Regions from separate parts of the Homo sapiens genome. Here region 1 is linked to region 2. The links come from fine-mapping of genetic effects on gene expression. Tissue or cell type: whole blood. Region 2 holds a variant in brackets; the other region holds the start of a gene. All regions are shown on one strand. Distances are from middle to middle.

What was found. PIP is the estimated chance that this variant, and not a neighbour inherited with it, causes the effect.
Region 1: it holds the start of CLEC20A, and the variant in region 2 is the best candidate, but not a certain one, in a credible set for the expression of CLEC20A in whole blood (TOPMed, PIP 0.53).

Annotation. Positions count from the first base shown.
Region 1 is chr1:178,495,541-178,498,299 of GRCh38, forward strand. It overlaps CLEC20A (C-type lectin domain containing 20A), which reads right to left and starts at 1,424. Exons shown (of 8, transcript NM_001395331.1): 1 at 1,360-1,424. The coding sequence starts at 1,399.
Region 2 is chr1:178,428,551-178,431,309 of GRCh38, forward strand. All of the region lies in intron 5 of RASAL2 (RAS protein activator like 2), which reads left to right. Among named protein-coding and RNA genes, the nearest start is that of CLEC20A, 67 kb to the right of the region's middle. The variant A/G (reference allele first, on the strand shown) is at 1,560.

The DNA.
Region 1 (2,759 bases), 67 kb after region 2:
GCTTGTCTGTCTGTATCACCTGGTATAGGCAACTTAGGAGCAAAGAACGAGCCTCATTCATTATATTCCCAGGGCCCAGCATGATGCCAGCCACATCACAAGGGCTCAATGTATTGAAAAGGAAGGAAGAGAAGGGAAGGAAAGAAGGAAGGAAGGAAGGGAGGGAGGGAGGAAGGAAAGAGAGGGAGGAACTAATGAGCAAATCAAACGTCTCCCAGGAAGCCAACCCAAGCCCCAAGATCTGTGTTCCTTCCTTCCTTGACTCCACCCTCTTGGTCCCAGTAAATGTGGTTGGTCCAGGGCTGCTCTGTCTGCCCAGGCCCTGCCTATGGAGGGAGGCAGAGAAGAATGAAGGGCTTGGTGCTGGGACCTTGGGGGTCTGGGCCACAAGGAACCCTTCAAGCTAAATGCCCCAGGAGAGGAGAATGAGACTGGAGAGCTGGGCACAGGCCGTGGCATGGAAGCCAGGGGCCAGGGCTGAGGAGGCACTTGCCAAGGAGAACAAGCTCCTCACACCCACCGTAGGGGAGGATGCTTCCTGTCACTGAGAAAAGCATTCTGCTTATTTTTTTAATGACTGGCTGTGGCCCGCATAATTGATTTTAGGACGGTGTCCACCCCTGGCACCCCAGCCCCATGCAGGGCGCCCCTCCCGCCGGCCTCTCCAGCCCTACCCGGGAGCCTCTAGTCAGTTCCATGGCCTTGAACTTAGCCCTTCTCTGCCTGCCTGCCGACACCTGGGCCCAAGACCCCTCTACCCTCGGCAGTCCCCACACGCCCCGACTCTGCAGCCAGAGGGCCTAAAACCTGACCACCCACCGCCATGTGGGTCGCAGCCATGGGGCCCTGCGCCCTCCCCTCCCACCTGCATCAGCAGCCGCCACCCTCCAAGCCAGGGCTTTTCCTGGCTTTCTTGGTGGCTCCTTCTCCCCCTCAGGCTCACCCACGGCTCCCTTTCTCCGAGAACCCTTGCCGCCCCCTGGTCCACAGACCCCCACAACGCCCGTCCCTGTCCACACCCCGGTGATGTCCTTCCCTGCATTGCACATGCTTCTGAAGTGACCTGCGCGGCCGTCTCTTTGAGGAATGTCTTAGCCCCGCTAGAAAGAAAGCTGCTGGAGCCGCACTGTTTCTGACTGCTGCCTTCTGGACGCTGGCTGAGTACTGTCTGGTTAGGGGCGATGAGGGCGAAGCTCCCTTCCCAACCCTGTTCTGAGGGTTGAAAAGCATTCATTTCTTTCCACCTTGCCTCCCTCCAACCTGGAAATCTGGGAACTTCAGGGGTGCGCCCCCTTCCCTCAGCCTCTAGCCCGGGGGAGCATGGAGCCAGGCACCCTCCTCCAGGTTGGGGGGCCTCACCTGCTGCGCAGAAGGAGAGCAGCAGCGCCCGGGGCAGCATGGCTGGGCACTGGCTGGGCGATGGCTGGGTGCTGGCTGGGCACGGGACAAGACCCCGGAGCTGGCGGGGACTGTAGAAGAGGCTGCGTCTGACCTTCTGGCCTTTCATTCCTTGCTGTTTCCTCTCTTCCTCTTTGCCACCCAAACTGCTGGATTTTACTAAACAAATACTTACCCAGTGTCTGTCGCTGCCAGCAGGGTGTGAGGTGCTGGAGATGCGGCCTGGAGGATGCGGAAGAGATCCCTGTGTGGGGGTTCAGAAAACAGTGTCCCAAAATGAAGGCCCCAGAAGCACAAGTTTTTCTCTTACCTTCTCCTGCCTTCCTGTCTCTCAGCCCCACTCTCCCCAAGGCCAGCCGTAGGAACTAGAACCCCTTTTCGCCAAAGCCAGCCATAAAACCTAAAAATATTACTCTAACTTGCCCTTGCCTGGCTGTGTAGAAACTGGCTGTAAAGAAATGATCTGAAGGGATCATCGTTTGACTGTAGGTCATGAGAATCCCCCATTCCAGAGAGGGCCCTGCTCCACGCCCAGAAGGAAGGACTTCATGCTCAGAGGGGCCAAGAAGAATCCAGACCCACAGGCCTGGCTGGGTTTCCCCACTCAGTCTATTCACATTAGATCAGACCCTTCTGTCCAATCATATTTCTACACAGCTGCCCACACTTTGTTGAACCTAAGCATAAAAACGAACAATGTCTCCCTCTATCATTGGGTCTTCATTCTGAAGGCTCCCGGGGACACATACACATGTTAAATAAATGTGTATGCCTTTCCTCCAATTAATCTGCCTTTTGCAAGTTGATTTTTCAGAGCATCTTCAGAGGTCCTCCTGCAACTTAGGAGGAAGGCAACATGGATCTGGTAATTAATAAGCAGATCGGGGAGGGAAGGAACCCATCCTTGGGGCTGGCTGCTGGGGGAGAAAGAGAGTAGGGTAGCAGAGGGCAGGGTGAGGCTAGACCCCTTGGGTCCTCAGGGTCAGAGGAGCAAGGGGCAGAAAGGAAGGATGGGGAAGAAGCGGGTGAGGAGGGAGAAGGAGCTGGAAATTGTGGACCAGGCAGGCTTTGCTAGACTCACCCCCTACCCCTCCTCACAGCAACCACATGACGTGAGGGAGAGGGCTGTCATTTTCACTGGCTCACAGGGGAGAAACTGTGGCTCAGAGAAGTGAAACAGCATGCTCAGGACTACACCGCAGGCAGAGGTGAGACAGTATTCAAGCTTAGGTTGAATACTAAAAGCTTTTCAGTGAATACACTGAAAAGCATGAGGTTGGGAGGTGATGGCCCCGACAAGTTCTGCTTCCGCACGGTCAGAGACCCCCAGGCCCAGTCTAGGCTCTGACTCCAAAATTAAG
Region 2 (2,759 bases):
TGATGTTCTCTCTATATATATATTCTACATATATATTGAATATATATATATTTTTAAGAGACAAGGTCTTGCTCTGTTGCTCAGGCTAGCGTGCAGTGGTGCCATCATAGCTCACTGTAACCTTGAACTCCTGGGCTCAAGTAATCCTCCTGCCTTAGCCTCCTAAAGTGCTGGGATTATAGGCATGAGCTGTGGCACCAGGCCCAGTTTAAGATATTACAAAATTCTAATCAAAACTACACACTTGCCCCAGCCAAACCAGTTACAGGCAGTCTGCCTGCCTTTGGAGAAGAAAGTATGATAGACTACTTACTTCTCTCCTCATCTGCTCTTCCCCTGTAGCCTACTCACCATGTTTTTAGGCACCCTCCAGGTTTTGGGGAAGGTGAAGCAACAAAAAGATGAGAAAGAGGATAACAAAGTCTATCTTAGCCTTCCATAATGCTCACTGAGCCTAACAGAAATTTGAAGCTGACTTTTCTCTCATGGGGTGATTTGGGGACTTTTTCAGAGATTTATCATCCCTGAGGAGCTCTCACCTATGGTTTCATTGACTCTGACAGATGCATTTCTCTTCCAAGTGCTCACTTGCGAATCCTTTCTAGAAAGGAGTTCTTGATGCTTTGGTTTCTTCATCATGCAGTCTTATGGTCCGCAGGAAACCTCCACAAATCTTTTGCCCTAACAACCTCTAGGACTACAGGCTTATCCAAAAGCATCAATGCTCTTGCTCTGCCACCAACAGTTAGTTGGTCATTTCTCATCATCTAGATTTCCCAGATGGAATCAAACCCTGCCCTCTATGTATCTTTTACCCTTCTCCCTTGTAGGTAGCAGGAGGATGAGCCTCACAACTTCTTTCAAAAATTGTTTCTCACAAAATCTTTCCCATTCTCCATTCTCTGACCACTTTTTATAGTCTTGACATAACTGAGAGGATCAAGGTAGTGGAACTGGTTCTAACACATTTCCTTTGTAAATGCTGCAGTTGATCTGATACATGACTTTGGTATACAGAATCTGTTTTATCTAGGTGTCTCAATTGAAACTGCAATTTTCATATCTCATTGCCTATGTATGTAATACTTCTATAAATCTGTAATCTTTAGCTACCGCACAAAAGGCAACATGGCCCAGTCTTTCCCTCTCAATATTACCTCCTGTCACTCCTGCCAAAAGTCTTCTTTATAGTATTATACTTGTCATACTGTTTCATATTTCTCTGCTTTTGATCTTACTGTCTCCTCTAACCCAAATGCCATTTCCTTTTCCTATACCCTGTCTTTTGTCAAGCTCACTTCTAGTTCATCCTCATGCAACAGTACCCAAGTCAGGAGTTACATGCTCCCTCCCTTCTTTTTGGTATTCTTCCCACATATCATCCTAGACTAAGTGCCTACCCCACCCCCCAACTACCTGAGTCCAACTCTGCATACTTTATTCTAGGACTAACTTTTTTATTGAATTTATCTTTTCATATGTCTGCTTACTGCAGCAGATTGAAAGCTCCTCCAGGATACAATCTTTGTATCTTCATTCCCTAGCACAATGACTGTCCT[A/G]TTGAGGAACTCAATACACATTTGTTGGCCTGAAACAGAAGAGGAGAGTCAAAACTGACTTCCAGATAATAAAGAATTACAATCTTTTAAAATATGGTCTATGTGGATATGACAACTTCTCAGAAATTACTGGACTCCAAGCCATTAATTAATCAATACAGTCTAGCTATCGATTAGAGTTTCCTATTCCAGATTTACAGCCATGGGCCAATTAAGGATCCCTTAGTTTTATGAACTAAAACCCAATTGAAGTATCTAATTGCATCATGATAACATTTTAAATTCATTAAAATGCTTTATCTTAATAGAAAAAATATTTCTACACATTTACTCCATCTTTGTATTCTTCCAGTGAAGAGTGTATTCAAGAATAGCTTTCCTGATCTCAACCAGATGAATAATTTACATAAAATGAACTAATGCATGTCATATCACTGCAAAAAAAGCTGTGTGTCTACAATCTTACTCCTTCACATTTGTATTGTACTGCAGTTTATGAAATAGATGTGAAATTATAGATTACTGCATTTGATTCTCACAACTGTGTGAGATGTAGGAAGAGAAATCATTATCCACATTATCTACACATATCTTAAATGAGATAACTGAGGTTCAGAAAGAATAAATTATTTACTGCATGTCACATGGCTAATAAGTGGTTCTAGCTGATGTGAATATGTAGGGCTTTTGGCTTCAGTTTGAGTGTTTTTTTCCATTATACTCTTTGTTGTGTGTGTTGATACGAATCCTAACTTGCTGACAAAATAAGAAAGAAGGGAAAAACAAAGGCAAAAAAGTACACACACACACACACACACACACACACACACACACACCCCTCTTATACCAGCAGAATACTATACGGTAATAATTGAGTCAATTTATGATCATAATATTTCTGCAATTTGGAAAAATACAAAGCTGACTCCGTACTGTACTCTTTTCATCTCTCCTCCTCTGCCAAAAAATCCAAATGGATTGAATGAAAACTTAAAAGCACTAAAAGAAAATGTAGCTTATTTCTTATGATCTTGGAATTTAAAAACCCTTTGTAAACATAAACTGGGGGGAAATAATTATAAATATGACAGAAAAAGAACTAATTTACTTAATATACAAAGAGTGTTTACATATCAGTTAATTTTAACAATTAGGAAAATGGTTTAAGAACATGGAATAGCAGTTTATAATTCACAGAAA